4 linked regions of the Homo sapiens genome follow. The protein of the gene in region 2 purifies or fractionates together with the protein of the main gene of each other region. This does not show direct contact. Each region holds a gene or a part of one and is shown on either strand. Other genes may lie near its edges.

Region 1 (7,024 bases), on a different chromosome or scaffold from region 2:
CCCTTAGTTATAAACACTAAGATAACAGCAAGCAGATTTCCTGAAACCAGTGCTGCCATCTCACAAACATAGAGGGAAGGCACATTTACCAAGCTGTGATAAAGTCGGTATAGGGACAAATGCAAGAACCTGCAAAGATGAAGGACTTTAACTTACTAAACAGTCATAAAGGAAAAAGGAATTTTGGCACGTTCAAGGAGGTATACGTTCTGAGTTAGAGCAAAGTCCCTCCTCTTGTCCCAAAGTAGGACTTACTGCATTACTGGGTTATTAAGTTTAAGTGTTCTGCTGGTCTTCCTTCCTGGGAGCCAAGCTGGCTGCAGAGAAGGAGCTCCTGAACAGACTAGGGCTGGATGATGGATGTGTGGGTCTGCCACCTCTGCTCAAGGAGCGGAGCTCTGGAGGGTGTAGTCGGCCTGGGCACCTCCTTCCCACCCCTAGGGACAGCTGGCATTGAGACAGGAGATGGGCTCTCCTCAGGCTCATGCACCACATCCAATCCAACAGCCTGTCTGGCAGCAATGTCTCCATACGCCCAGAGATGCAAGACTCTATCCCCTACCCTCTTATCTCCGCTACTCACTGAGATGCAGGGGACAAAATCTGTTGCTCAACAGAGTTAACACAGTTTTTGGGTGATCCATTTTTCCCAGCTCTAACCTGGTGCCTTATGGAAAATGTCTGCTTGCATAAGGATAATAGGAAGAGCTCAAGATGGATCAGTATAGAACAAGACTGTACAAGGGGGCAGAGCACCCTCGGCCCAATGGAGTACTTGCAATAACCCCACCCTTCCTATAGCCACAAAGGTACACCTGGAGGTGGTGAGCCTCTGATATTCATGGGCGTGTGACTGCCAGAGCTAGAAACACACCCTCTATAAAATCCTGGTAAATGAACATGTGAACTTTTAAAAGATAAACTTCATTCAAGAGCATTCAATAGGAGCTCACCCAACACATCAACAGGTTTGCAACAGAAGCAGTCCATGTGTGCTCTGGTGTCAGACAGCTCAGGTTCAAACCCGAGCCCCACCTCTTCTTAGCTGTGTAAAAATGCAATAGTAGTTTAACCTCTCTGGGCCTGTTTCCTCCTCTAAGAAGGATAATAATAGTACCTATTTCTGACGATGCTGAGGATTACATGAAATTACATGTGAAAAAAAAAACACTAGAAAAGTGCCTCCTGCCATATGATAAGCATCCAATGAGCTCTAGACTGTACTTACTTGAAGGTCAATTGAATACCTGAAGGTATCTCGCACTCAGAGTGCCCAAAACGGAGTACCTTTTCCTCCTACAGCTGTATCAAAGTATAACTGATATACAAAGAATTGTACATATTTAATGTGATGAATTAAATGTGCAATAAATATGTAATAACCCATCACATAATTAATGTGCTGGGTTTGGATGTATGCAAATACCCATGATACAATCACAACAACCAAGGAGGGAGACATGTCCAACACCTCCCATACTTTCCTTGTGTCCTTTTGTTTGTTTTGTGTGCGTATTAAGAAAACTTAATATGAAATCTACTCTCTTAACAAATTTTGAAGTGCACAATACAATATCATCAACTATAGGCATTACATTGTACAGCAGATCTCTAGAACTGATTTATCCCATGTAACTGAAACTTTATACCCATTAAACAAGAGCTCCTCATCTTCCCCACCCCTCAGCCCCTGGTAGCCACTATAGGTTGAGCATCTCAGATCTGAAAATCCAAAATCCAATATGTTCCAAAATCCAAAGCTTTTTGAGTACTGACATGACATTCAAAGGAAATGCTCATTAAAGCATTTCAGATTTCAGATTTCCAGATTTGGGAGGTTCAGCCACTAATTCCAAAATCCAAAAAAAAATCTTCAAACTGAAACACTTCTGGTCCCAAGCATTTCAGATTAGGGATACTCAACCAGTATTATATTCTTGCTCTTATGAACAAAAGCGAGTTCTTGATATGGCCCCCAAACAGCCCCTCCTTTTGTATCCTTGTCTTATTCATGACAACTCCATTCTTCTGATTATTCAGGCCCAAACCCTTGGAGTCATCTCTTCCCTTTCTCTCACTCCAAAGACTATGAGCTCTTTCTTCACAATATATCCAGAATATACAGTGCTATCATCTTGATCCAAGATACTACTGTCTTGTCAGATCACTGAAACCTCCTAACTGGTTTCTTTGCTTCTGCCCTTAACACCACATGTCTATTCTCAATGCAGCAGCCAAAATGGTCCTATTTAAATGTAAGCCAGATCACATCGAAGCTCTCTGCTCAGAACCCTGCACAATTGCTTCCCACTTCACACACAGTAAAACCCCAATATTTTACAAATAGCTCAGAAGAATCTAAATGATCTGCCGTCTCCTTCCCCACTTCTCTGACCTCATCTCCTGCTACTCTCATTTACTCTTCTCTAGCCAAACCAGCCTCTTAGTTCTTCCTCAACACACTCATGCCTCCAGGCCTTTGCAATTACCATTCCCTTTACCCAGAACGTTTTCCCCCTCTATAGATGCCTGCATAATTGGCTTTCTTACTTCTTTCATGTCTATACCCAAAAGTCAACTCCTCAGTGATCTCTTCCCTGGATGGAAACCTTGTTTTAAACTTCACCTTTTCCTTGATATCTCATAGCCTCCTTCCTTGCTTTTTCTCCTTAACACTTATCACTGTCTAATATGCCTTTTTTTTTTTTTTGAAACAGGGTCTTACTCTGTCCCCCAGACTGGAGTGCAGTGGCATGATCTCAGCTCACCACAGCCTCTACCTCCCAGGCCCAAATGATCCTCCCACCTTAGCCTCCATGAGTAGTTGGGACTACAGGTGCATGCCAGCACTCCTCGCTAATTTTTGTAGAGATGGGTTTTTGCCATGTTGCCCAGGCTGGTCTCGAACTCTTAGGCTCAAATGATCAGACCGCCTTGGCCTCCCAAAGTAGTGGGATTACAGGCATGAGCCACCATGCTTGGCACCTTGTCTTTTATTTATTTATTTTATAATCTATATTCTCTATTAGATATAAACCCTATGAGAGTAGGTATTTTTGTCTGTAACCACTGCTCTCTTTCCAGGACTTAGAATAGTGCCTCACACATAGCAGATGCTCAATAAAGATTTGTTGACTAAAATGAATTGACAGAGGGCTCAGGGCTTTCTTAAAGCATTAGGTGTCCCTGCCAACTGGAAGTCAATAAAAACTGAAGACCAATCAGCCCTTAAAGTATAAGTCAACTGAAACATGTAATTACATTTATATTTTCAAATAATATTTCAGCCATCTGTTTATTCTACAAAGTAAAATGTACCCGTATTTTCAGCTTTGATTAAAAATATAAACTACCCTCTGTTTGACCTTTTGATTGAGCCACACTTCTGTTCAGCACTAGGTCAATGAAGCATGACTGGAATATTAAACGGTGCTTCTATTCTTGGTTCAGCCTATGAGTCAGTTTCTTTTTCATTTCTCCTTCCTTTCAGTGGCCAAATAGATATATCGACAGGCAATGAATTATTACTATGACAGATGTTAAGTTTCATGAAAATGAAAGGGTAAGTCACCATTCAGAAGATATAACATGCATCTTGAAGGAGGAAATTTGAAAAAAAAAAAAAAAAAAAAAAAAAGCTTTCTTGACTAACAGTAATTCTAGAAGATAGACCAGATAACTGAAAACAAATGCTACTGGCAAATAAGAGGATTTACTTTCTAAAATTTTCACTTTCAGAGATGAGAGTTTAAAAGGAAGAGAAATTTTATGCCCAAAGAATAAAATCTCAATTCCCTAAGGAAAGCTCCATTCAATCACCATGAATCACCAGTAACGGAGCTAAAAGAAATCTGAAGCTGGCATTTACATACAGAATGGTATGTTAGTAGTGAAACCATAAACCATCCAAAGAACTGGATTAAAAATAAAATAACAAGTCTAGTCAGCCAGTTTGGATTCTGGAGAGAAAAAACTAACATTTTAGTTAGAAAATAGTGTGATAGAGAATAAAGAGAGTTAAGAGCTTTGGATTTGGGCAGTCATAAACTCCTGTCCAGGTTTTGCCATCTAGAAGCTGTTTGACCTTGGATAAGTTACTTAACTACTCCGAACCTCAGTTTCCTAAACTATAAAACACAAGTCATAATACCTAGAGTTGTTATAGAGATGAGATGAGTTAGAATGTGAAGACCTTTGACATGGTAAGGGATCAATAAATGATAGTTCCTTGCCTAGATTGTCCAGATATAAGTCTAAACTGAAAGAATAGTATAGGGAATTGTCACCACTGGACTGCTTCAGGACAGATGTCCCTGAAATATTCTGCCAACGCAGGTAAATACCTTAACTTGATCCTGAGAATGGCCTGCAAAACAAAAGGAAACACTAAATCCAAAGATGAAGAAAAAGCCAGAAGGGAAAAATTCAACAAAGGTTGGAACCATCCCCTGGGTCAGGCACTTCCCAGTCTTATCCAGTCTCAGCACAATAGACTGGAATGCCATTGCTCACTGTTTTCTGACAACACACTTCTTGGTTTTCCAGGACAGAGAGGGTGGAGATGTCTTTGGTACCTGTTTGGTTTGTTTTTGCTTTTAATCACTCAAATCCACCCTCCATCCATTCATTCAATCTTCCACACATTTCATCTCTCATCATGCATTTATGAAGCAGCTACTGTATGAATGTGGGACATACACCAAGCATTTGAGAAGATACATGGATAGATATTTTACTTTTTAGGAGAGATTTGCAGAATTGTAGATGTCACCTATCTAATCCAACATTCCATTTGTGTGTGTGTGTGTGTGTGTGTGTGTGCGTGCACACGCCTAGCACCTACTGAAGTAACACCTTATATACATATTAATATTTACTAAGAGTTTACCATATTCCAGGTACCATGCCACATGCTCTCATGTGTTATCTTGTTTATTTGTCACAACCTCTCTATAAACACTTTTACAACCTTTAATGAACAGATCCAAAAAATGGGGCTGGAAGTCACATAGCTTGTAAATGGAAGAGCAGGGATCTGAATTAAGTCTCTTAATTAAGGAGTAAGAATCAGGATTGTCCTGTTCACTGCATTCCTTACACAGAGATTTAAGTGTATGATGCTCTATATATCTGTTCTCTGACACAATGAAAAGAAGGCTGAGGTTGGAACAAATTGAACAGTATTTCTGTTTCAGGTTGTATAAGCCATGGATGGAAATTAAAAATCAAGGACTTAATCAAGGTTCTAACTTGAAACAACCATTTGCATTTACTAAGATCTGAAGTAAGACCTCACTGTGCCCTCCAGGAAAATGTTTTTGCAGTTAACCAGAATATCCCCTTCATTCCAGAGTAAAGTGACACTTGAGCAACCTTTATGCAGCCAAGTAAGTGCTCCCACTTGTCCTATGACTGTCAGAAAATAGAAGTGGAGTAGAAATTAGAATTCTCACATAAAAGATGAAAATTAGAGTCCTAAGACCATTAGCGCAGTGGATCCATTGTGAGATCAAAGAATCTCCACAGTGTATCAGAAGAGTAATCAGTAATGAGTTCAAAAATAAGCTGTGTGACCCTAAAACACCTCAGTTAACCTCCCTTAGCCAGTTTCCTCCTTTCTACAATGAAGATAATATCTACCTCACAGTATTTTTTAAGATTGAACAAATATACACTATTGTTACTGAATATATAAATTATATATTATATAATTAATATGTATAATATATTAATTATATAATTTATATATTCAGTTCCTTCCATGTTTATAAAATGATAGAGCTTTATATGTTGGCTTCTGGCATAAATCAGCAATGCACTTTAGAAAGGTATCATTGGCATCTTATCTAAAAATTCTTCCATTAAGTGGAAAGGAGTCAACAAACTAAAAGGTTTGAGGCTTCCTGCACTAAACCAGAATCCAGTTCTCAGGTTTCTGGAGTCTTGACTAGAACTCCTCCAAACCATCTCCTGTAGGCAGAGCAGAGATCAAAATCATTTGGGATAGTTTCAAAGGCCAAAGCTAAGACTGATGGAGTGGCTGCAGAGCAGGGTTCCAGCTCTGCATAGGGAGCATGTTTGTAACAGTTGCTGCTGGCCAGCCCTGGTGCAAGCTTCTGAAACAGGAAGCGCCCCACTGAGAAAACTGAAGCAGAACATCTCACCTGCTCCTGCCTGATTGATCCTCCCAACATCAAATTATTTTATTCAACACTTATCGCGTGCTTTCTATAAGCTGGGCACTAGGAAAAGAATGAGTAAGATGCAATCATCATTCCTCAAGGGCTCAAGTTGGGGAGACAGATACATAAGCAGATAATTACAAAACAACATGGTAAGTATGAAAATAGAAAAACTATAAGAGCACTGAAGGGGTGAACCTAACTTGGGAGGTGGATACAGTTCAGGTGGGGAATTCTTTCTGGAGGAGGTGACACCTCAGCAGAGTCTTAAAGGATGGAGTAAGGGCAGGAAGTGAAGGATAAGATGGGGTCTGTGTAGAAAGGGAATTTGGGCAAAGGGAATCAGCATGAGCTAAGAAACAGACATCACAAACAGTCTGGTTTATGAGAGGAACTCCAGGCAGCTGGATAATGCTAGAACATAAAATATGAGGGTGGAGCATGGTGAGAAACTAGATTGGAGCTGGAGACAGGAGCTAGGCTATGGAGAGCCTGTAAACTGCATTCTGCAGTGTGAACTTTGTCCTGTAGGGGCTGGGCAGGCAACACTTTACAGATTTTCAGCACAAGAGTGACTAAGTTTCTGTGATCTTTGACTTAGGAGATTCTTTTCAAAGGGAAACTGCAGTGTGGACTCAAAAGCTGCCGAACTGGGCTTTGGGAATTCAGTGTCACTGCTGCCCTGCCTGACTCATCACTGGAGGCAAGCACTGAGTTCCTTTGGTCTCCTGCCTCTTCCTCCCCTGTGTGCGGGTCCTCTTGGTAACACTGACCTCATAAAAAGGTGATGTGGGTACAAGGAGACTCAGCATTATAAAATGCTTGGAAGCCGCCAAGGGTAC
Region 2 (7,995 bases):
TGAGCCCCTCTAAGCCTTTCTCCTACCCCCATAGCCCTGGCGCAACCACTGCCTTGTTCTCTCCCAGCCTTCCCAAGGCCTCACTCCAGCACATTCTTGCCACCTGCCAGAAGCAGCAGAGGAAGGGAGAAGTCATCATTTGGAAGCTTTTTACTAAAGCCCAGGGAGGGGCTCCCCCGCTGCCACACTGGCCTCTATAACCGAGTTGCCTGTGTGCCTCACCCTCTTGGCTCCACTTCCTGCACCACATGGGCACCCACTGCCAGAAAGAGCTCTTATTCTTTCTTGAAGACCCAGGAGAGGAACTTTCTTGACTTGGCTCAGACTTGGGAAGCAGGGGAATGTAGGGTACCTGGCAGTCACCCAACCCCTACATTCGCATTGTTTGGGCTTCTCCAACCAAGACCTGTTCCTGGGCCCCTTGTGCCCAGAGCAGCAGTCAAGGCCATCTGAAGAAATGGGGAGAGGAGGAAGCCCAGGGCAGTGGTCCTGTGAGGAACCAGAACATGGACACACAGTCTCCCATCAGAATGGCAGCCTTCACAAGCACAGGGACTAGAGTATGGCCATTGTATCCCCAGCACATAGGACAGTGCTGGGCACATGGTAGCCAAGTAGTGTTTATTAAAGACTTTGTGCCTGGCACTTGCAAATTGGTGCACAAATTTACTCACAGCATTTCATGTATCTATGTAAACTTAGAGTCTCCTTTAAAATGAACAGTATCCTCATTCTATAGAGGGAAAAACTGAGCCACAGAGAGGTTAATGGCTTCAAATCACATAGGCACCACAACACTGCAGAGATAATTTCAACCTCATGCAGGCCAGTGTTCTCGGGATGCCCAGGAAAACTTTCTTGTACTTTGAAAGAATGACTCTGTGCTTCAAAAATTCCCAAGAGGGTGACGTCTCCTTTTCCTCTGCTTCCCTTACAGCCATCACAAGGAAAAATAATCACCCCTATAGGCTAAGGGTGGTGGCTCACACCTATAATCCCAGCACTTTGGGAGGCCAAAGTGGGAGAGTCCCTTGAACCTGTGAGTTTGAGACCAGCTTAGACAACATAGTGAGACCCTGTCCCTACATTACTGCTAATAATAATCTCTTCAAGGACACAATGGTGGTAGTGATGAGAGGAGTCAAGGAAGCAATTGGCCTGGGCCTCACATTGATAGATAACTTGAGTTTACATTTTTGATGTGGCACACTAATAAACTTTAAACTTGGGCCATATCACCAAACCACACCCTCACCATGCACTATCAATTTGTATTTATGATATCTTAAAATAAATCCTGTAAATAACTTGTAACTATATCAGTTGTGCTGCATTGTATTGGGGGGGGAGGTTAAAGCAGTTAAATTTGTAAATATAAACATCTTAAAAATACCGCAATCTTTTTATAGCCCTCTTTTTGTACCTTTGCATTTTAAAAATTCACTGAGATGAATAAATTCCCTGGGATGTCCTGATTGCTCCCTGCGGTCCCCAGAATGGAAGTGGGGGTGTGGGTGAGGATGGAGGAGTGGAAGATGCCTGAAACTGGTTACTAAAGCCCAGTTTATTCCAAAGCACTCTGATTCTGTGAGGCTGTTTTCCTCATTGCATTGAATTCGGGCTATTTTTTTGTCCCCTTTGTGTCTAACAGCAACAATCAGAAGCCCATCCTCATACCACAGGGGACTTGCTTCATTGAGACAGTTGAGCAATTTGGGGAGTTTTGGATGGGGCAATTTGTTTAGCATCCAAACCTTTTACAAAGCACGCCTTTCTTATCACCCATTCCCCAAATTACAAAAGCAGAGAAGATCATGATCAGCGGGCATGGGACAAAAGAGGCAATCTTTTTTATTTTTGTTTTTCTTTAACAATCTGAAACAACGGCCACTCCTACAAGCACAGTTTTCCAAGAATACCCAACCCAGGACAAGTTAAAGAACTGCCAGCACACAAGGGAAGAAGGAAAAAGGAAAGAACGACAAGGCCCAGAGCGATCAGGGCTAACACAGAAACCCCCTGGGGCACCCAAACAGGAAGAGGGGACTCGAGTGATGAAATCCACAAGCTGCTTCCATGAAATCAACATGTTTGAAAAAGGGACCTCCTCAAAGAAAACGAGATTCCAACTCTCTTCAGCGCAGTGCGAGCCACCGGTGGCAGGCACCGTTGCAGGGAACCTGAACTAACTCCATGCCATGCAGCCCCCAACTTTCTGGCCTGAGGATGCGCAGTCCCCGAACCCAACCACTCCTGTGCACATCTCCTTGTAAGTTATCTCCCCAGCCTGCTCACCCATTTGTGGCTTGGAAAACATAAATTGCGGGCTTTGCTCCCCAAGACGGCTGAAGGACGGACCCTTCGCTGATGGCCACGGGCCCTAATAGAAACAAACTAAGACTGTCTCCTAGGCACCTTAAATAACTGCAAACAAGCACTGTACCACGTGGAAGTCACACTTGGGTGGGGGGCAGTGTCACATCACCAGGCAGCCACCACAAACCTAGAATTTTCATGGTCCTGAGATGTCGCATTCCCCTTCTTATAAAGAATGGAAGACGGCAGCCCAGGGGCTCACAGGGACTAGCGTTGTCACATGGCTAGTTGGTGACCCAGCCACAAAGAGCCTAGCTATCCTGATTCCTAGGTGGAGATTTCTATCCCCTGGGCCTTTCCTCTTCCAAACCACGACTCTCAAAACAGTGATCATTTTAGAATCCACAAGTGTGGCTGATTAATAACACTGTCGATCGTAAGAGTGTAGCAGCAAAAGCTGTAATAAAAGCAATAACCGTAACATTAAGAAGAAAACAACTTGAACATTGTGGAGAGCTTTGTGTTTTTCACTTCTGCGGCCCAAAGCCAGCCAAGTTCCTTGAAGTCAGCACCGAGAGGTATTTGCAAGAATTAAGTGAATCAAAGTCCTTGAAAGAGCGAGGAAGCGCCCCTGCCCCGGCGGCGGTACTCACCAGCGCTCCCTCCGCAGGTGCTGGGCTGGAGGCGGCGGCCAGGTGGAGCGCAGCGCCCCGGGTATATATGGCGAAGGTGTTGCGCAAAGAGGCTGGCCGCTGTCATCACGCCCCTCGCACATTCCAGGACCGCCTGCCGCAGCCGCCGCCGGGGCACTGCCTACCTGCCGCCTTAATGAACCCATCGCGACTTCGCCCGCTGCGCGGAGAAGACGCGCGGCCAGCCAGGCTGCCGAGAGAAAAGCTCCGACGGGCCCCGCCGCGCGAACTGGCCCGAACGGCCCCAAACGGCCCCGCGCCCCTCGGCGCCCCGCGCGCCCTAGCCTGGCTGGTGCGCGCCCTCTCCCGCCCCGACTCGGTCCGCACGAGATTCCCGCAAGTGGGGCTCTCCCGCCCCTGCCTTCTCCTCAAGAACTTGAACCTTCTAGTCTAGCTCCTGTGAGGCTCAAGAGGTCAGAGACGTGAAGACACAGATAAAAGCCAGTTGGAAAGTCAGGGATAAAGCCCTTGGAAACAAAGCCTGGATTGTTCACCTTTATCAGTCTGTGGGGCGCTTTCTGCCCTGGGAGTCTGGGCTCTAGGTCCGCAATGGGAAAGGCTGGGACCGTCAAGCTGAGGAAAAGGAAGGGGGCTGTTCTCACCACTCCGTCCTAAGCCTGCTGCGGGTTTGGCAAACCACTGCGCTCGTTTCACATCCTGCTCTGCCTCGTGTCACCTGCGTGTGTATACAACAGTTCTCCAAACTGCTGTGAGATAGGATCTGTCCCAGGGAGAGTCCACCCCCATGCTTATCCCAACAGCTCCCCAGTTCTGTGCCGGGCACTGCTGGGCAGGCTTTGTCTCCAATGTGCACACGAAAGCCTTCCCTGGGGCTAAGACTGGCGCCCTCTCTAGCTGAGGTTTAAGGGGTTAGGGGATATGATACAATTACCCAGGATTTGCTGAGCAGGAAGAAAACCTGCTTCTTATTCTGAAACCCAGACCCTCTCCTCTGCTGCGCACTCTCCTGGTTTTATAGTGGAGCACAGTGAGGCTCAGTGAGCTTACTAGTTGCCCAGCTCCTCACAACAGCGGAAGCACCCTACTGGAATTAGCTGGTTTCATTCCAACATCGAGTTCTCTCCACTGTGCAAGGGGAAGGACTCGGGAGCACGACTTCCAGGAGCCTAGAGCTCTGGGGCTGGTGTTGGCGGTGGCTAAGCACACTGACTCTGGGCCGAAACTCCGGGAAATCAGTTCCCTGTTCTGCCCCTTGCTTTCCCTGGCTCCATTTGCTTATGTGCAAACTGGGAATAATGGTCCCCGTTGGAGTAAAGTGAGCTAAAATATGTAAAGAATGTGGAATGGTACTTGGCACATAAATAGTATTCAGTGCGAGTTAACCATGATCGTTTTCACAGGGAAACTCTGGTGTTGGGAGAAGATGGGTGGGAAGCCTTGATTAGACTCATCTAGAACCTTCACTGGAGAAATCAAATCTGCTTGGGTTGCTGTTATTACAGGGATGATGGTTTTGCTAGTGGGTGTTGGCCTTCAGATCCAACTCTCAGACAATGATCAACCAGTACCTTTGCAACAAGCAGCTTCTAAAGCATAGTCCACTGATGACAGGAATCCCCTGGCACCTGTTCACCAAGCTCAGCTCTGCCTCCAGCCCTGGGCAAGGCGGACTGCAGACACCACTTGGCTTTACAATGAGGAAGGGCTCTACTGCCAGGGTGCAGAGGAGGAAGCGTGCTGCACACACTGCTGTCGGTGAACTCGACCCGGATTCGGCAAAGCCTGGCTCTTAGTTCATGTCCTGCTCTGCCCTGTGCTTGGGGGTTCACAGGAGCAGGTCTTAACAGGACAGTCACCTCAATGAGAATCCCCTCCTGACTGTGGGCTTTCATTTGGGACACAGACCTAATTGCCTTTCCATTACTTTCAACAAGGAGTGAATGTAGGAGGGAGACCAAAATTTCAAAAACTTGGAGAAAGAAAAAGGTATCCCTTTTGTGTTCCGATTAAAAAGGCAAAACAGGTTCAATCCCGAACATTGTTCTCTTAATGTGTATAGATCTTGGTAGTAGATCAGGGATGGTATCTGATTCTAGTTTGGGATTGTAATTTATATAATTTTTTTTTACAAAGTCTGGAGGAAAGGTAGATGGCGTGTCTGTGTTCATCACTCTATAATCTCTCCCTTTAGGAGAGTACAATTTGCTGAAGAACATTTTCCTATCGTTATTCCATCTGAGATACAAAATACTCTCACCATTTAGTACTTCAAACATAGAGCCTTATGTATAAATACAAACATCTAAAATACTTTCATCGAGGCTGGGTGTGGTGGCTCACATCTGTAATCCCAACAGTTTGGGAGGCCGAGGCAGGCAGATCACTTGAAGCCAGGAGTTGGAGACCCGTCTACCAACATGGCGAAACCCCGTCTCTGCTAAAAATATAAAAAAATCCCAGCTGCTCAGGAGGCTGAGTCACAAGAATCACTTGAACCCGGGAGGCGGAAGTTGCAGTGAGAGCTAACTGCAATCCAGCCTGGATGACAGAATAAGAATCTGTCTCAAAAAAATTAAATTAAAAAAAAATACTTTCATCAAAAAAGTGTCACCAAACCGGGCACAGTGGCTCAAGCCTGTAATCCCAGCATTTTGGGAGGCCGAGACGGGCGGAACACAAGGTCAGGAGATCGAGATGATCCTGGCTAACACAGTGAAACCCTGTCTCTACTAAAAATACAAAAAAAAATTAGCCGGGCATGGTGGCGGGTGCCTGTAGTCCCAGCTACTCAGGAGGCTGAGGCAGGAGAATGGCATGAACCTGGGAGGCAGAGCTTGCAGTGAGCCAAGATCGTGCCACTGCACTCCAGCCTGGGCGACAGAGTGAGACTCTGTCTCAAAAAAAAAAAGTATTACCATTTTTTCAACTCATTTCAGTATATTTTTGCGCCTATTGTCCTATGAGGTGAGATTTAACAAGTTGGTAGGCTCTGTGTTAATCTGGAGAGGAAACACCCCATCCAGGGCTGGCTGCTACCCAGCTTCAGATATTGCATGAGAAAATATAGTCAGATGCTGTCAGATCTTGACTTTTGTGGGGAAGCCAGATATACAGGTCTTTATGTGAAATGTACCATTAAAAAAATACGGAGTAGGTCAAACAAAGCAGCTCTGTGAACTACTGATTTTCATCCTGGTGCTAGACATACTCTCAGCTGTTCGGACCCTGCCCCAGTGCCCTTTCTACCAGTATATGGCTTGTCCCCAAGGCCCTCTGGCACTTCTTTTTACCCTTCACTGGGGCTGACTTTCTTTACAACAAAGTGGCAGAGAGATTCCACAGGAGTGATTGGATGACAGCCTTCCTGGGAGGTGATTGTGTGGTGAGACAAAGGCACCCAGGAGTCCAGGTTCTCCTTTCTCTTCCTCGGCTCGGTGCCTTACCCTCTGAGTCACCAGGCCTGGGAAAACCCAGGAGTTCAGACTGATGGGAAAGTCCTAGCTCATTCCAAACTCTCTGGCAGGATGAAGCTGCCAGTTACTGAAGACAGAAAAGAGGTAGGGATGGCACATAACTGTCTGCTTGACTCTCAGCTGTCCAGGCAGGGCCTGGAGAGGAGGCAGCTGACTTCTGGGCTGACCTGCCCAGGGTACCCACCCCTGAGGACCAGTGAGCAAGCCCACTTAGTGCTTTTTCCCTGGCCGCAGCTGCTGCAAGAGAGGGGCACAAAGTGGATTGCATCATAAAAGCCTGAGAAAGTGTCTCCAAAAATAACACCTGAACAAAACCGCTTTGAACTTTTGCATTCATTAGACGCTTTTTCGGGGCCCTATGGCAGTGTTGATAATCTCAGAATTGTTCAGTCAGGCTCAGTGACAGGAAACCTATCCCCTTAGATACAGCCAGAATTCCAGAAAAGTCAAATAATGTGTTATCTAGTCATGAGACAGCACTGGACTTCAAAGAGTCAGGTTTAAATGGAGAAATGCTAACGGAACAGAACACAGGGCTGACATAATTACAGGCTGTCTTCAACCTGGCTTCAATATGTACATAAATATGCAGAGAAAAATACCGGAAAGCAATACACAAAAATGTTCATTGTGGTTATATTTGGTTGTGGGATATGGGAGACTGTATTTTTCTATTTGTATGCTGCTCCTAAAAGGATCTAAGACAGCTAACAGATCGACAAAGTATAATTGATTCAAAACTAAGTGAGAAAGAAGAGGCAAAGAGAAACGTAGGGAAGTAAGATTGAGGTGGAGGAGAGGTTAAATGCTGGAACCGTACGACACTGTCCATTTCTGTTTGTCAAAGACAGCCTAAAAGATCAATCATGGTAATGACTATTAGTACTGGTAAGAGTATGTGAATATTTTGCCTGAGTTATTAAATATAACAGTTCCTGATAATAAAGTTTGTATAGTTTATAAGTTATTTGGCAAGCCAGTGAGTGTAAAGCATTATCATAGGCCTGGAACTTAGTAGGTAAATACTACTCCTTTTATGTCCTATTATGTGTCTGTTATGACTAGAAGCACCGCCAGACTCTCAAACTCTGGCCTCTCAGAGCTCACAGACCCTTCCCACCACACTGTATGCATGCATTCAACTCATGGTAGGTCCAATACATAACTATCGGTTTAATGAATCAGGGCCTCCTAATCTCAAACTGAAGTTGACATTTGAATCTTGCCCCCATGAAATCAGGTTTTTTTGGTTGCTGTTTTTTTGGGTTTTTTTTTTTTTTTGAGACAGAGTCTCACTCTGTTGCCCAGGCTGGAGTGCAATGGTGCGATCTCAGCTCACTGCAACCTCTACCTCCCAGGATCAAGCGATTCTCCTGCCTCAGCCCGCCTCCACCTCCCAAAGTGCTGGGATTACAGGCATGAGCCACTGTGCCTGGCAGAGATCAGTTTGTGTGTGTGTGTGTGTGTGTGTGTGTGTGTGTGTGTGTGTATGTTTGAGACAGAGTCTCGCTCTGCTGCCCAGGCTGGAGTGCAGTGTTGTGATCTCGGTTCAC
Region 3 (7,024 bases), on a different chromosome or scaffold from region 2:
CTCCTTGTCTTTCTTTCTTTCTGGCTGGAAGGAATTTTACATGCAACCAGTTATTTTTCTACTAGATTATTCTGTTAACTCTCCAATGGTACTGCATTAAACAAGCCTCTCTACTGTGGCTCTCTTGTCTGTATTCACAGTTCCCATAGATTTTATGTAAAACAGCAATCATAATACAGCAACAACAACCATAAGAACAAGAAAACAAACACAAAATATCAAAAGCTTTCCTGGGTTAGACTTTTTTAGCTCTTTGGAATAGGCAAAGAATATAGAGACTTTTGTTTTCAGCAGCTTACCTCAAATACGGGCTACCAGAACACAGCACACTTAGGTAAGTTGTGAATGACATGTAACAAAATGCTCAAAAATAATACTGATATATGAGAGCAAATGAAATAATGAAAAAGGGTCTATAATGATGGAATGGCTTCTGATAACTGAAATTATGTTCTTTTCTAGAATTTAGAAAAAAATCATACCTAAACATTAACACAAAATATATGTGGAAGAATCAAATGTGCCATATGGACTATATAAATATAATACAGATTAACTCCAATACTTTTCCAAATCAAGGTACAATATAAACATTAATAATAGTACAGGCATGCCAGAAAGACAAAAAAAAAACAAAAAAACTAGCAGTCAAATAAATATGGTCATTTATATCCAAAAAAGTATGTGTTTAACATTGAATGAAGACATTTCACATTTATGTTTCAAGTGAACTAATTAGAAGGCTAAACCTTCCTTCTAGTTCAGTTAGTCAAGGACTTTACTAAGGTCAGTTACATGGTTTAGAGTTAGACCATTTCCCTGTCCAAGTTAAGAGACAACATTCATCTTCACAGAGTCATGGCTCTACAAGCTGAACCACCGTTTTGGGGTGGCTCCTTCCCCCTTTCCAAATTGGCCAAGTTTAAGAAAAAGCACTGCATATATGCATAAATGCAATCTCTTTCAAATAAAAACCGTCAAAAGTTTAAAATAAGCTATATTTCTTCCTCTTCACATAAAATTATAAAAGGCTGATATTCAGAATGACCTTTATTTTTATATAACTATGGTTTAAACCACCTTACTGCAGATCCCAGTAAAATCAACACTGGAAAAATCTGTTTATTTTCTAACTACTTTGAGGGGCTACTAAGTGATTGGAAATGTTTTATACTTTATTTTCAAGTCTAGTAGGCTTACACCCATAAGTGGGGTTTAATTCAGAAGAATAAAAAATAAACAATTTTTTTCTATTCCCACAAAAATACCCGTAAGTTAACACTTTCCACATAAGCGTTCAAGGTATTTTTTTGGCAAGAATATTCTACCAAGACATTAGTAGCACATGGGTAAACAGAAGGGATTAACTATTCTGTCTGATGCATTGATACTATTTAGTTATTCTGTATTTTCAAGTATTCCTTATGTACTTGGGAAAAAAAATTAAGATGATCATTTAGGAGGAATGAGAAATGTGATCCAAATAGTCTATTTCTTCTGCCAGGCAAAAAAAGTAGTATTAGCAAAATCTATTCATTCTCATTGCATAACTTCTACTTCATACTATTGTATTTAAATCCATTCACAAAGTTCATGGGTTAAAAGAGCACCCATTTGAGTTATATTACTCTAACTAAAGCCAGAATTCTAAGTATTCTTGCTTTCAACTTTCATATAATTCTTAACTTACAGCTTTGGCCATAAAGGCTACTTACAATAATGGTAAATGCTTAAGAGAATCATTTGGTATTTTAATGAACATTTATTGTGAACTCTAGACATGAGAGTGGTTTAGTGTGTTGCGTATCAAGTATCCTGAGATGATAACTTTTTGTAGTTGTTTCTTCATGCTTTCTTTTTTAGCTGTAACCACTGTCAGTATGCTTGTAGGACAATAACATAGGCAGTTCAAGATTCGGATTCTGAAAAATGTAAAATATACAGATTTAAAAGGCTTATTTTAATAATGTGAAACCATCTGTTAAGCATTTTCAGAAATAAGTAGTAAATTTTGTTATGAGAGTAAAGCAACTGTCTTAACAAAGTGCCAAGTTTTATTCACATGCAGGGGAAAAAAAGAGTGACACTATAACCAGATTTTAATCCTTTCTTCATTTGTCAGCTGAATAGATTCAGGCTTGCTTTTTGCTTTTGGATTGTTCCAGGGTTCTCCTAATACTTTCTACCTCTGGGATTATTTACCATAGCAGAGGTTTAGCTTGCTGTGATCCCTTCTCCTCTAGGCTGGGAGGTCCTTGAAAACAGGAACATTTTATTTACCTTCTATCTCCAGCAGCTAGTAATAGTGTCTGGCACACAGCAGATACTCAGGAAATGTTTGATGAATGATTAGATTGCTGTTTTTCTTGATGTGTTAATTTTGACAGAGGAAGTCTGAAGATATATTCAGCTTTGGAAGATTATTGTGAAAATATTCTTCCTTTTTACTGAAAGAAGCATATTTCCCCCCTACAATATGGAAGTTAATTTTCCTTTTGGTAGATCATGTATCTATGAGTCGATTGATTCTTCTGTTTTTTCTTATGCTTCATCTTTTTGGAAGAGAAACCACGGATATTTCCCTATCAAATCTGTAGATTCTTCTCTGTCCTCTAAACATCATCAAATGCTATGATCAGGATGGTGCATGACAGACAAACTGATCATTAAGTGTAAGTCAAGTATGTTAAGAAATGGAAGTCATATGTCAAAACAGGGAGCCTGATTCTCCACTCTAAAACTCAATCTTTTTGAACCTGAGTAGTGGAAGGTCTTAAGTAGTATGCTATTTTCTTCCCATTCTGGGACACCTCCTTTGCCATGGCTGGACTAGAAGCTCATTAGAATACCTTCCATTTCTATTTATGTTCCACATTCTCCAGAACCACTAGTAGGTTTTCAGGTAGCTCTGCAGGGTCATGGTGACTCTAACCAAAATAAGGTTGCCATTCATACTGAGAATGTAACTCACATTGAGGAGTTAGGTAGTTTCCTTACCAACCAAGGAACAAACTAGATGCCTAAACTAGCTGCTAATTATTGTCTTTGGAGGAGAAATAATGCCACATGAAAATCTATTCCTGGAAGAAATAACTACATTAAAAATAAGACAATTGTTTTTAAAAAATACTTCCTCAGTTCTATGTTAGACATTGTAGGAGATAAGGCCCTGGAGAGGCCAAAAGCAACAGCAGTGTCTTCTATCCAGCCCAGTCCCCCAAACCACAGACCAAGCTAAAGAGAGCAATCCAGGGGGATACAAAATTAGCCAGAAACAATATAGCTAAAATGCATCACACAGCTTAGAACGAGGCAATCTGGGACAAAGGGGTCAAAGACCTTGAAGGTTACTTGTGAAGCAGATTCATTACTAAGGGAAAACATACTCAGGTAAGTTGTTCAAAAATGGGTAAAAAGATGCTAACTGTGGCAAAATGAGTCTGCTTCTAAAATAACAGTGCAGATGTAGACTGCGATGAACTCCAGGAAGACAGAAGAACCAATGGAGTCAATCCATTAATTTAACTTGTATTCTTTGCTAGAGGGTGGCAGAGTTGACAGCTGTTGAAAAAAATGGGCCTATAAGGTGGACTCGCAATTATTAGCTTCAAAGTGAACTAACCCACAATTGTATTCATGATGATCATTAATTTTTATGTGTGCATGAAAGATGGCCCTGCTTTAAGCTGTGTAGAGTTGTTTCCAAGCTGACAAGCTTGGAAGCCTTGTTCATTAATTACTCTAAATTCCTATGGATGGATAAAAGACCTCCAGAGGTCTGAGTTGTTAAAGGCCCCCACTGAAGGAAATACAGACTATACATAAAGGAGTCATTCTGAGTTCAAGGGGCCCTCCCACGGCGTATCAATTCCTCCCAAATATTTTTGGGGGTAAATGAAACATTATAAAGTGAATTTAATCATTTTTGGAAACATTAATTATAAAGCATTTTATATCATTAGGCAAGCATCCCCCTGAATGGCTATGAAATATTTTACCTCTGAAAGTTGAAACATTTAGCTTGAATAAAACTTGACATTAAAAAAGTTATGATTAGACTGGTTCATTGATATATATTTGGAGATCAGACATTTACAAGGACATAAGTGTATACAGTACCTGCAAACACACAGACACAGCACATGAAGGTACAAACACATTTAGTTATTTTCACATAATTCCCAAGAGAACATGCAATGCTAAATTGGCTTGATATTATACAGATGCAATTTTGGAATATTTACTTTTAGTTTTCCAAATGATCTTTATAAATCAAAGTTATATTTCCTGATCAATATTAACAAACATTTTCACATGGTGGCCTTGCCATGACAACTTGCCCCTTACAAATTAAATATGCTGTATCAACATTTGGCTCTGAAAAATGTTTAACATTTTATTTGGGGGGCTTATCATATTTTAATGTTTAATATTTTAAATGCATATTTCCCCATATTCCAAGTAATGCATCTTTATATTTTTGCAAAGAATATTGTAAAGTTCACCACACCAACAGCAGAGAAAATTTAGAGAGTGATATTTTCATTTTTTCTTTATAATGCTGTTAATCCGATTTTTTAAAGCCAGCCCATTTGTTTAACACTAGGTACCTGTTACAATACATTAGATTCGTCTGAGAATGTTCGTAAAAGAAGAGGTCTGACTGAAGGTCTGGCGGATAATGAGTCAGATGCCCTTCTACAGCTCAGATTTCTCTGTAATAGTGAGGCAAAGATACTTAAAGCATTTGAAAATTGGTTAACCTACCTGGTGATTATATATTTAAAAAAAGGTAAAAGAAAAAAATCATTTCCTATAGACTACTCCTCTGGCCAAAAGTACAAATGATTACACTATATAGTAAATGTATAACATTCAAATGAATACATTCAAAGGCCTAAGAAAGTCTCCAACTCGAATTGTTTTTGTGGTAGAAGTAAACAGACAACAGTAGTATGTAGTAAACTTGGGTTTTTGGAATGGCACTGGTAAGTAATATGGTAAGATGAGTCAATATGGTTTGATTAGTAAACCTTACCATCCTTTTGGTGAACACCTCTGAGAGTTGTGCCGGTGCCGTATTATCAAACAAAGAGAAATTTGTGCAAAACATTCCTGTCCTGGTGAACAGACTAGCTCTAACACGCCATGGCCACTGCATACCGTGGATCAATGAAGACTACAGACCCGTAGTCCAAGCTTTTAAAAATTACTTCCTCTCCAGTGTGACAATTTGGAAGGTGAACACATGATTAAAAGAAAATGACAAAATACTCTAAGCATCAATAGAAGATATAAAATGAGTCATGAGAAGTAATTTTTCATAAAGAATTAGAAAATGGTGTCAGGCAAATGAGAATGCAAGCAAGTTGGTACATTAAGAAAGGAAATCACCTTATTCACTCCAAGAGAAACTGTGATTGCTGGAAGTTTGAGAAAGCATGAAGATAGCAGATGTTCCTGAGGAAGGGAGGCGTTTCGTTACCTTGTTCACAATTGCACAAAAGGTGGAAAATTGCAGTAGAAAAAAGAGAAATGCAGAAACCAAAAAAAAAAAAAAAGTAAATAATCTCTCAAATGTAAGACATTTAAAAAGAAAACTTGAGAATTCGAAGCCGAAATGATATGTTAGTTTTGAAGACATTATTTTCTGAAGTAAAAGCAGAGTCAGAGATAGGAATAGTCTATTATTACGTGCCAACTACTATTTCTCTACATATCAATTTGAAATTATTTTGTTAATGGGAAAATTGACTATTTTAAATAAAATAGCTTTAAAATATGCTTCTCGTTAAAATAAGACTTATCTCTAATCATTAATTCACTATCCTACATTTGTTCAAAATCCATTGGTCAAAGAGTTATGTCCAGGGTCCATTGCCAATCACCAATCTATCTTGAAGTAATTATCTCCCCTATGCAACTGTACAGATACACTATGAAGGGACTGACTGCTCTTAAGCAGTTGCAGGATAAAAACTTAATCAAAAATAACAATGGGAAAACATTTGGTGATACCACATTTCAGTCCCATTTGCCTCTGACCAATGCTTAACTTCCTTTCTTACAACCTAATTTGATTGGTTTCCCTGTTTTTCCTACAGAGTCCTCTTTAGAAAGATAGGCTAAATTTTACCTGGGTAAGGTATTATTTTTTTTCCCCTTAAAACACCCAGAAAAGTGAAAATGGATAAAGTTTAACTGGCAAACCTAAGGTTATTTTTTTCCTTCTGATTCTGTGCCTGAAATTATAAGGTAATTTACAGACTCAGTTTTGGCATTGCCCAAGCAAAACAGAAGATGAGTGGTCAACAATGTGGATGACTTGAACAACTCTGCTAATAAAGATTACCCATATTGTCTACTTAGTGACCTAAAATGGGCTTAGAAAAAGAAACCAGCTAAAGTAACATTTGTTTCCAGAAGATTCTAATAAACAATTAAACTTTCAAAGGTAAATAATTTATTCATGTTTTGACAACTACATTTTTTCTTGTTTTTACCTTAAATGAAGAAAGTTGGTGGAATGAAGAAAGTTGATAGACATATTGATAGAATGCAAATTACCAATTGATAAAGCTAGAGAATATTTAGATTCTGAGAAAAAGATTTTAATTGTTTCTATCTTCTATTTTATGGGCAAAAACCCTGCGACAAGATCAGCATGATACCAAGTTCCCCACCCCCGTGTTTAATGCACAAACCTATCTATTCAAGACTGCAACTGTAAGCACGTTTTGGTGTGCTCAAACACTTGTATCCAACCATCGGAGATAAAAGTATTTCTATGAAGCAGAAATATTAGGAGTTAATAGATTAGGTGTTAAAACTACTTTATAAAGGAAATGAAAGTACAGAAAGCAGGAGAAAGCATGGAAAGAGTAACTAAAGCAATAAAAAAATTGATATAGCTAGCAACCGGCAGTGGGGTGGGGTAAACAGGAGATAATGAGCTAAAACAGAATGAAATTTCCACATTCCTTTGCAGTCATCTAGAGAGCTTTGACACCAGCTCAATTAGCAG
Region 4 (7,024 bases), on a different chromosome or scaffold from region 2:
CTAGGAACCTGTCTTACAGAAATACTCCATTTTATGCCCATGCAAAGGAAATAGCTGCTACCCAGCTAAAAACTGTGTGTGTTTTATTAAAACCACACTAGGTTTGAGATCCTACAGACAATGAAGCCCTGGCTGATAAACAGCCTTCTGCTAGTGTGAACAGTTCACTTCCAAAAAATTAATACTACAGTCAGGGAGATACGTCCTTTTTATGTCAATAGAAGTGTTATTTGAAGATTTTTTCTACCATCTCATCAGAAACCATCCTCATAAAAGACCCCAAGCTGTGGAAGGTCACTCACCGAGCTGAAGCTAAAACCAATTGAGTGAATATTCACTTTGCCATAAATGCCCAGAGTGTCTATTTTCTCTGGGCCGATCCTGTGGCCATAGAGCAGAGTATGTTTTCCATTTACAGCCACCTAGAGAGATACAGAAGACAGAGCCCCCCCCGCCACCAAAAAAAAACAGTTAATAAATTAACTTATTATCCAAATTTAAATGTTTCCTTGCGTCCAGTTTTATACCTGTTCCCACAGGTCTCCACACACATGACCAAATGGTAACCGAAAGCACCCAAAACACTAGCAGTGCTTCCAAACTTCTTTTGAGTTCCTGATTTGATTAAGCACCAGGAACTGTCTCTCCCCAGACAAACAGGCAGTCATAAGTATATGTGCGTGTGCTTGTGTGCGCCTCTGCATACATGTGAGACATCTGGGTTCGAAGGTCGCCTGGAAGCCCAGGCACAGGTGCCCTGGAGATTGTGAACCCAGGTTAAAGATCTGCCTGCGAGCTCCCCACAACACTGTCCCTGGAGACCACCCATGTGGCAGACACTCAAAATCTGTTGTATTTGCTAAATAAATTAATATGGACAAGTTACCCAACATATTTGAATTCGGTTTTCTTATTCTGAAGTAGGAACAGTCTCTACCTCAACAGACTACAGTAAGATGACGAGAAAGTAGCTTCTGCAGGTCCTCGGCACGCTACGAGGCTCCTCCTCCCTCCCTCTCAAATGCCAGGTACCACGTTAGGTTATAGGCAGAAAACGCGAGCAGCATACAATATAGTCTCTGACTCAGGGAGCTTAAAATCCCATTGTGGAGGCAAAATAAACACGTAAAGCCAAAGCACAACTGTTAAAAACTGTGAAAAAGAATGATACAGACACGGGCTCAAAAGGCCAGAGAAGGGAGAGGTGAATGGAGTTTGGGAGATTCAGAAAGACTTTCGGGCAGGAGCAGTATCCCGAAGATCAGAAAGGATCTGCGCCAGAGGCATTCGAGTCTTCTCTCGCGTTGGTACATACCTCTACTGTGGGCAAGCTCCACAGGCCAGAGGGCCAGCAGGTGTAAGCTTCTGGGACCAAATTCAACCGTACACATACACGCTAGGTACAAGACACTCCATGAAGCCAGAGATGGAACTGACATCAAGGATTTCTAGGATCTCCTCTGGGTCTAAAATCTCATGATCCTACGGAACTGTCTTGTGGCAAGACTTGAATTTACAAAACCCTTCTGATTTCTTCGCTGGGATTGCCCTTGTTAGCTCTTCGGGTGGTGGCGGTTATATTATAACTTACCCTCCCATCATGAACATAATACTGTGTCAATTCGGAACTCAGCCCTGCTAGGAGAAATAGGATCTAATAAAAAGATCTGGTCACAGTGGACCATATTTCTGCATGGCAACAACTGGCTGGAGAGTAGTGGTGCCATACCTCACATTTAGGTGCCTTCCTGGTCCTTTTATGGAGAAAAACTACAAAGCCAAACAAACTATATCTCAGGTGTAGGAAATATAAGGCTGGGCTCACAAATGTGAAAAGCACCCCTGTGCACTCCTGCTCACTAATGAGGACTCAACCTGTCCCTCTCCAAAACCTACCTGGAATTTGTCCTTCAGCACCATAATCACGATCTCAAAAGACTTTTCTCTTTTGAAAGGCGTGTCATAGGTGATCTCTTCCCGTCCCCATTTTTCATTTATCAAAGTATTGCAAACAATGCAGCCGGCCCTTTTGAAACGAGGATTGAAATGAAAGGCCACATCGGCTCGAGGTTTCATGCTGCTGCCATTCTGCAGATCCACCTGGAATCTATATGAGGGAAGACACAGGGGCCCCATGAGTGCTCAGAAAGGAAAGCCACCAGTAAAGGACCAGCAGGCACTACACTCCAGGCCCAGTGACAAGGGACTGACCAATCCCTCCTCATTCATTCACTATGAGGCCTAAAGAGCTGACTGTCTAATCTTTTCTGTCTTCCTCAGTAAAATAGCCCCTGAGTTTGAACTGGGTCTGAATCTGCCCAGAATAAAAACCTACCTTTCCCAGCCTCCCTCGCAGCTAGGCCTGCCTGTGCAGCTAAAGCTCTGCTGGTAAGATGGAAGTGAAGTGCTCAGGGAAGGCTACTGGAAACTGCCTTAGAAGTCAGCAAGCACTTGCCTTTTGTCCAGCTCTGTTTCCCCGCAAACACCACATGCACCCATCCAGCTACCCAAAGCACAGAAGTGAGGGCTGGAAATCTGGCTGCCAAGGAAAACGGGAAAGGGGACCTTACCTCACCCTCAAGATAACAGAGTGGTGAGCTCGAAGGAGTCTACTTCTCTAACGACTTGAAGGAGTTAACTGAAAAGGCCTGGGCTGTCTCCTTGAGACTTAATTTTCACATCTTAAACCACTGCTCTTCAGGTGTTAGGTACACAGAGCTGAGCCCAACACTAATGATACCACAGCTTGTATCCAAAGCAGGTATTCAGTAAAACCATCTGAACTAGATCTGTAATGCTGTGGGAATGTCAGACTAAAACTAGACTGTCCCTGTCATCTGACCACAATTCCTTTCTTTAATGACATACCTAATTCTTTTTCTTTTTCTTTTTTTTTTTTGTCACCCAGGCTATAGTGCAGTGGCTCGATCACAGCTCACTGCAACCTCAAACTCCTGGGCTCAAGGAATCCTCCTACCTCAGCCCCCTGAGTAGCTACAACTACAGGCGCACACCACCAAGCCAGTTAATTTTTAAATTTTTTTTTTTTTTACAGATGGGGGGTCTCACTATGTTGCCCAGGCTGGTCTCAAACTCCTGGCCTCAAACAATCCTCCTGCCTTGGCCTCCCAAAGTGCTGGAAAAGTATGTTTAAGTCACCACATCCAGCTGATAGTTCTAATTTTTTATACTGAAATCAGACTTACAGCAATGAAATAAATCCCAATAACCTTTATTTAGTCATTCATTCCAATCTCCTCAGCACCTTGGCCAGGGCTGCTGATGAAAGCTAATTGGGCCTCAAAGTATCAAATGGTCTCTCCCGCCTTACTCTGTTATCATTCCACAATCACAAAAAGACAGCCTATTCATGCTCCTTCCTTTAGCACAGTGATTTTACCTGTCTGCGTCACTAGGAACATGCCCACGTATCACAATCAAAGTTCCAGGATCCAGCTGATCAGGAATGGTGCCAACAAACGGGATTACCTAAGAAAAAAAATTTAACAAATGTACGTTTACATAAACAAAATTACTTACTAAGCAATTACAACCCACACTCATTATTGATAGAGAAAAACTACACTTTTTAAGGCTGCACATAAATCTGCTCAGAATCCAGCATTTTCCAAGTCATCTTTCCTATTCAAACAGCTAGAAAAAGGAACTGCGGCCGGGCGCGGTGGCTCACGCCTGTAATCCCAGCACTTTGGGAGGCCGAGGCGGGAGGATCACGAGGTCAGCAGATCGAGACCATCCTGGCTAACACGGTGAAACCCCGTCTCTACTAAAAATACAAAAATTAGCCGGGTGTGGTGGTGGGCGCCTGTAGTCCCAGCTACTCGGGAGGCTGAGGCAGGAGAATGGCACGAACCTGGGAGGCGGAGCTTGCAGTGAGCCGAGATCGCGCCACTATGCTCCAGCCTGGGCGACAGAGCAAGGCTCCGTCTCAAAAAAAAAAAAAGGAACTGCATACCTCATGGCCAGGATATCTGCAATAGCTGCAAACCACTATGAGTTCTTTGGAAAGAGACACAAGGTAAATACTATTCATAGTATTTTGTATTTGGCTGAGAGTTTGTGAAGCAAAACTTCTGCTTAATATGATAATTCTAACAGAAAAAAAAAAAAAGACTTGTTGCAATGCCATGTCTACTCATTCCTTTTCCTACTGTTCCACTGCTGATCCCAACAGAAGGTTCGAGGCCACACTAGGCCCAAAGCCAATGCTGACGGAGACAATGACAAGCACTCACTGCCTCTGAAGGAAACTCCACGTTAAGCCACGCCCCCACACCTGGGATTCCAGGGCCTGCTCTTCTCTGCTGGACTCCCAGACTGCAACCCAGACTGCACTGTTAGAAACCAGAGAACTGCATGATCATGAGGATGAGTGGGTGCCTGTGGGTCTTCAAGACATGGCATCCACCTGCCGTGGACCAGTCCAGTCTGCAGGCGTGGACTCTGACAGCTGGCTCCACCCAGTATTCAGGTCTCAACCTGCACCCTCACTGCCCAGAACCCAGCCCTTTTTTTCTGGGACCTGCCACACTGCCAGATCTTGTCATTCCCCTTCCCCAGAGATGACTACACTGTCTTCCCAGTCCACTGGCTGGGGACCTGTGCTATGTGGCTGCCTCTCCTGCATCACAACCATCTGCCTCCATCTAGAGCATCTGACCAGGATGTACAGCCCACACACCGTTAAGCCTCACACTAAGCTCACTCAAATTACGATGTGCATGGTAAAACCTACCCAAGGTACTTCTGATTGTCAAGAAATAAGAAATAAAATAAGACGGGCCACAGAAAAGTGGTTATAAATTGGTGGCTCCTAAACCGAAATCGCCTTGAGGCACAGCCTCCTCTGTGGAGCCTTCTTCAAGCTCCCTGGGCTGCTGAGTCAGCCCCTCTCAGAGGGTTCATGATAGCACTTTGGATTCTGTTTGTTTGCATGTAGCTTTGCCTAGACTGTGAGCTGCATGGGGCAGAACTGGCTCATCACCTTTACCTCCCCAGGACACAGGTCAAGAGACGATCGGTAACTGCATGGTGAATGAATGAACTCTCACCTGTCTGGAAAGTGGGCTCTGGCAGGCCTCACACATACAGAGGAGAGGCAACAAAGCAGCTGCTGAACCGCAAGCTGAGCCCACAAGCTCTCTGTTGCCTTAGGCAATAAGATGAGAAATTACGGAAGCCAATTATCTATTTGTTGTCATGGCAATTGCTAGGAGCAGGGTGGGAGGCACATGACACCAGAAAACAAAAAATACAACAGACAGTGTAGACTGGGGCTACAGCTGCACATCAGAGTATCTGATTTTGTGTGTAGAGAATGGGGAAGGACCTACATCCCTACATTGATCTTTTGGGTCACAGCTGGTTCCAAGAATATATAGCAGCAGGTTTCATAGCGTTAATCTCTTAATAAAATGAGAAGTTTTTATAACATCAAATTTCATCTTAAAATTATCTTTATGCAGAATATTTAATAACACAAGTTAGTAATATAAGTGAGAAAGTAATCTATAGAGCCATATATAGTATGATCTCAACTAAATAAATATAAACATTAAAAAGAAAACCTTGCTAATACACACTGTATCCTGTATCAAAATATGCCATATACCCCATAAATAGATATACCTACTACATACTCAAAAAAATTAAAAATTAAAAAAAGAAAAAGAGAAACACTAAAGAAATCAGACAAAAATGATAACAATAGTTTTCATGGGGGATGATGGGATTTTAATTTTTTTCTTCATATATTTTCATACTTTGCAGATGTCTATAATAAGCATCGATATTTCTATAGCCAGAAAAATATTTTTAATTATATGTTTCATTTTAGTGTTGGAAAGAGCTTTTTGAGACAAAACAATCTATTCCCATCACTTTTTTTTTTTTTTTTTTTTTTTTGAGACAGAGTCTCACTCTGTCCCCCAGGCTAGAGTGCAGTGGCGTGATCTCAGCTCACTGCAACCTCTGCCTCCCGGGTTCAAGCGATTCTCCTGCCTCAGCCATCCAAGTAGCTGGGACTACAGGCATGTGCCACCATGCCCAGCTAATTTTTTGTACTTTTAGAGAGATGGGGTTTTGCCATGTTGGCCGGGCTGGTCTGGAACTCCTGGGCTCAAAGTGATCCTCCCAAAGTACTGGGGTTGCTTTGGGAGGTAATGAGCTTTGGGAGAAGCTACCGCACCCGGCCCCCATCACTTCTAATACCTTGTTCACAACTGTTTATAGGTTGTTCCAGTTTGAGAAACAACTATGCTAAGAACGGTGGCCACTTGCTGCTTTAGTTTTCTGGGTTCATCATGCCTTCTACTTCAGAAAAGATCCTGCATTACTTCAGTAATACTTTTTTTTTTTTTTAACTATGAGACACAGTGCCCTGCCGCTGACTCATTTAACCCACGACTATGTGGCTTCTGTGAAAACGGAGGACATACATTGTTTTCTAGGCTACTCCAAGCTACTTTGGTGATTCACAGATCATTATTAATTTACATTTAAAAAATTAAAATACAGATCTGATCACACTGGAGACAATACCACAAGCTTACGCCACAGTCAGGTTTGCTGTTATTTCCCAAAACACCCTTGCTGATTCATATTGCTTTGCCTTTTTGATGATTAAATGCAAGGCTCTCTATTAGGCAGACTGCAGCTTGAAAGAAGCCTAAGAGTCAGACACCCAGGAAACATAACAGACACCCAGGAAACATGGAGTGAAAATGTGATACTCTATTTGGCTGCTGAAAATTGGTATCCCTTTCCATATCTGAAAATCCCCTAGCTTATGAACATTAGACCTCATCTAGACTGCAACAAGGTAAGAGCAGGTGACAAAACTGCCCATTAGAACTTCCAGCTCAGCTTTTAAGTAAGAACCAGTGACAAGAAGAAGCCACAATGACGCAGTATTCACTCTGGCAAGGGGGCAGCCGCTATATCTGGGTTTGGAGAAAGCTACATCTGGGGTCAAAGGCAGCTACATCCGGGGTCAGGGGCAGCT

Evidence for each region.
Region 1: the proteins of SLC34A2 (region 2) and ENDOD1 purify together in Homo sapiens (co-immunoprecipitation; 4 studies listed by BioGRID and IntAct, with this or other methods). This does not show direct contact.
Region 3: the proteins of SLC34A2 (region 2) and ATP11C purify together in Homo sapiens (affinity purification with mass spectrometry; 3 studies listed by BioGRID and IntAct, with this or other methods). This does not show direct contact.
Region 4: the proteins of SLC34A2 (region 2) and LGALS8 purify together in Homo sapiens (co-immunoprecipitation; 2 studies listed by BioGRID and IntAct, with this or other methods). This does not show direct contact.

The regions. Positions count from the first base shown.
Region 1 is NC_000011.10:95,092,841-95,099,864, reverse strand, and holds part of ENDOD1 (endonuclease domain-containing 1 protein precursor), read right to left. Parts: intron 1-7,024. UniProt on the Homo sapiens protein: May act as a DNase and a RNase. Plays a role in the modulation of innate immune signaling through the cGAS-STING pathway by interacting with RNF26.
Region 2 is NC_000004.12:25,650,865-25,658,859, reverse strand, and holds the start of SLC34A2 (sodium-dependent phosphate transport protein 2B), read right to left. Parts: upstream 3,010-7,995; 5' UTR 2,970-3,009; intron 2,397-2,969; exon of another isoform or gene 2,296-2,396; intron 1-2,295. UniProt on the Homo sapiens protein: Involved in actively transporting phosphate into cells via Na(+) cotransport.
Region 3 is NC_000023.11:139,727,041-139,734,064, forward strand, and holds part of ATP11C (phospholipid-transporting ATPase IG), read right to left. Parts: intron 5,486-7,024; coding exon of another isoform or gene 5,396-5,485; exon of another isoform or gene 5,395-5,395; intron 4,716-5,394; coding exon 4,614-4,715; 3' UTR 4,611-4,613; intron 1,923-4,610; coding exon of another isoform or gene 1,860-1,922; 3' UTR 1-1,859. UniProt on the Homo sapiens protein: Catalytic component of a P4-ATPase flippase complex which catalyzes the hydrolysis of ATP coupled to the transport of aminophospholipids, phosphatidylserines (PS) and phosphatidylethanolamines (PE), from the outer to the inner leaflet of the plasma membrane.
Region 4 is NC_000001.11:236,533,962-236,540,985, reverse strand, and holds part of LGALS8 (galectin-8), read right to left. Parts: intron 3,490-7,024; coding exon 3,401-3,489; intron 2,108-3,400; coding exon 1,897-2,107; intron 423-1,896; coding exon 303-422; intron 1-302.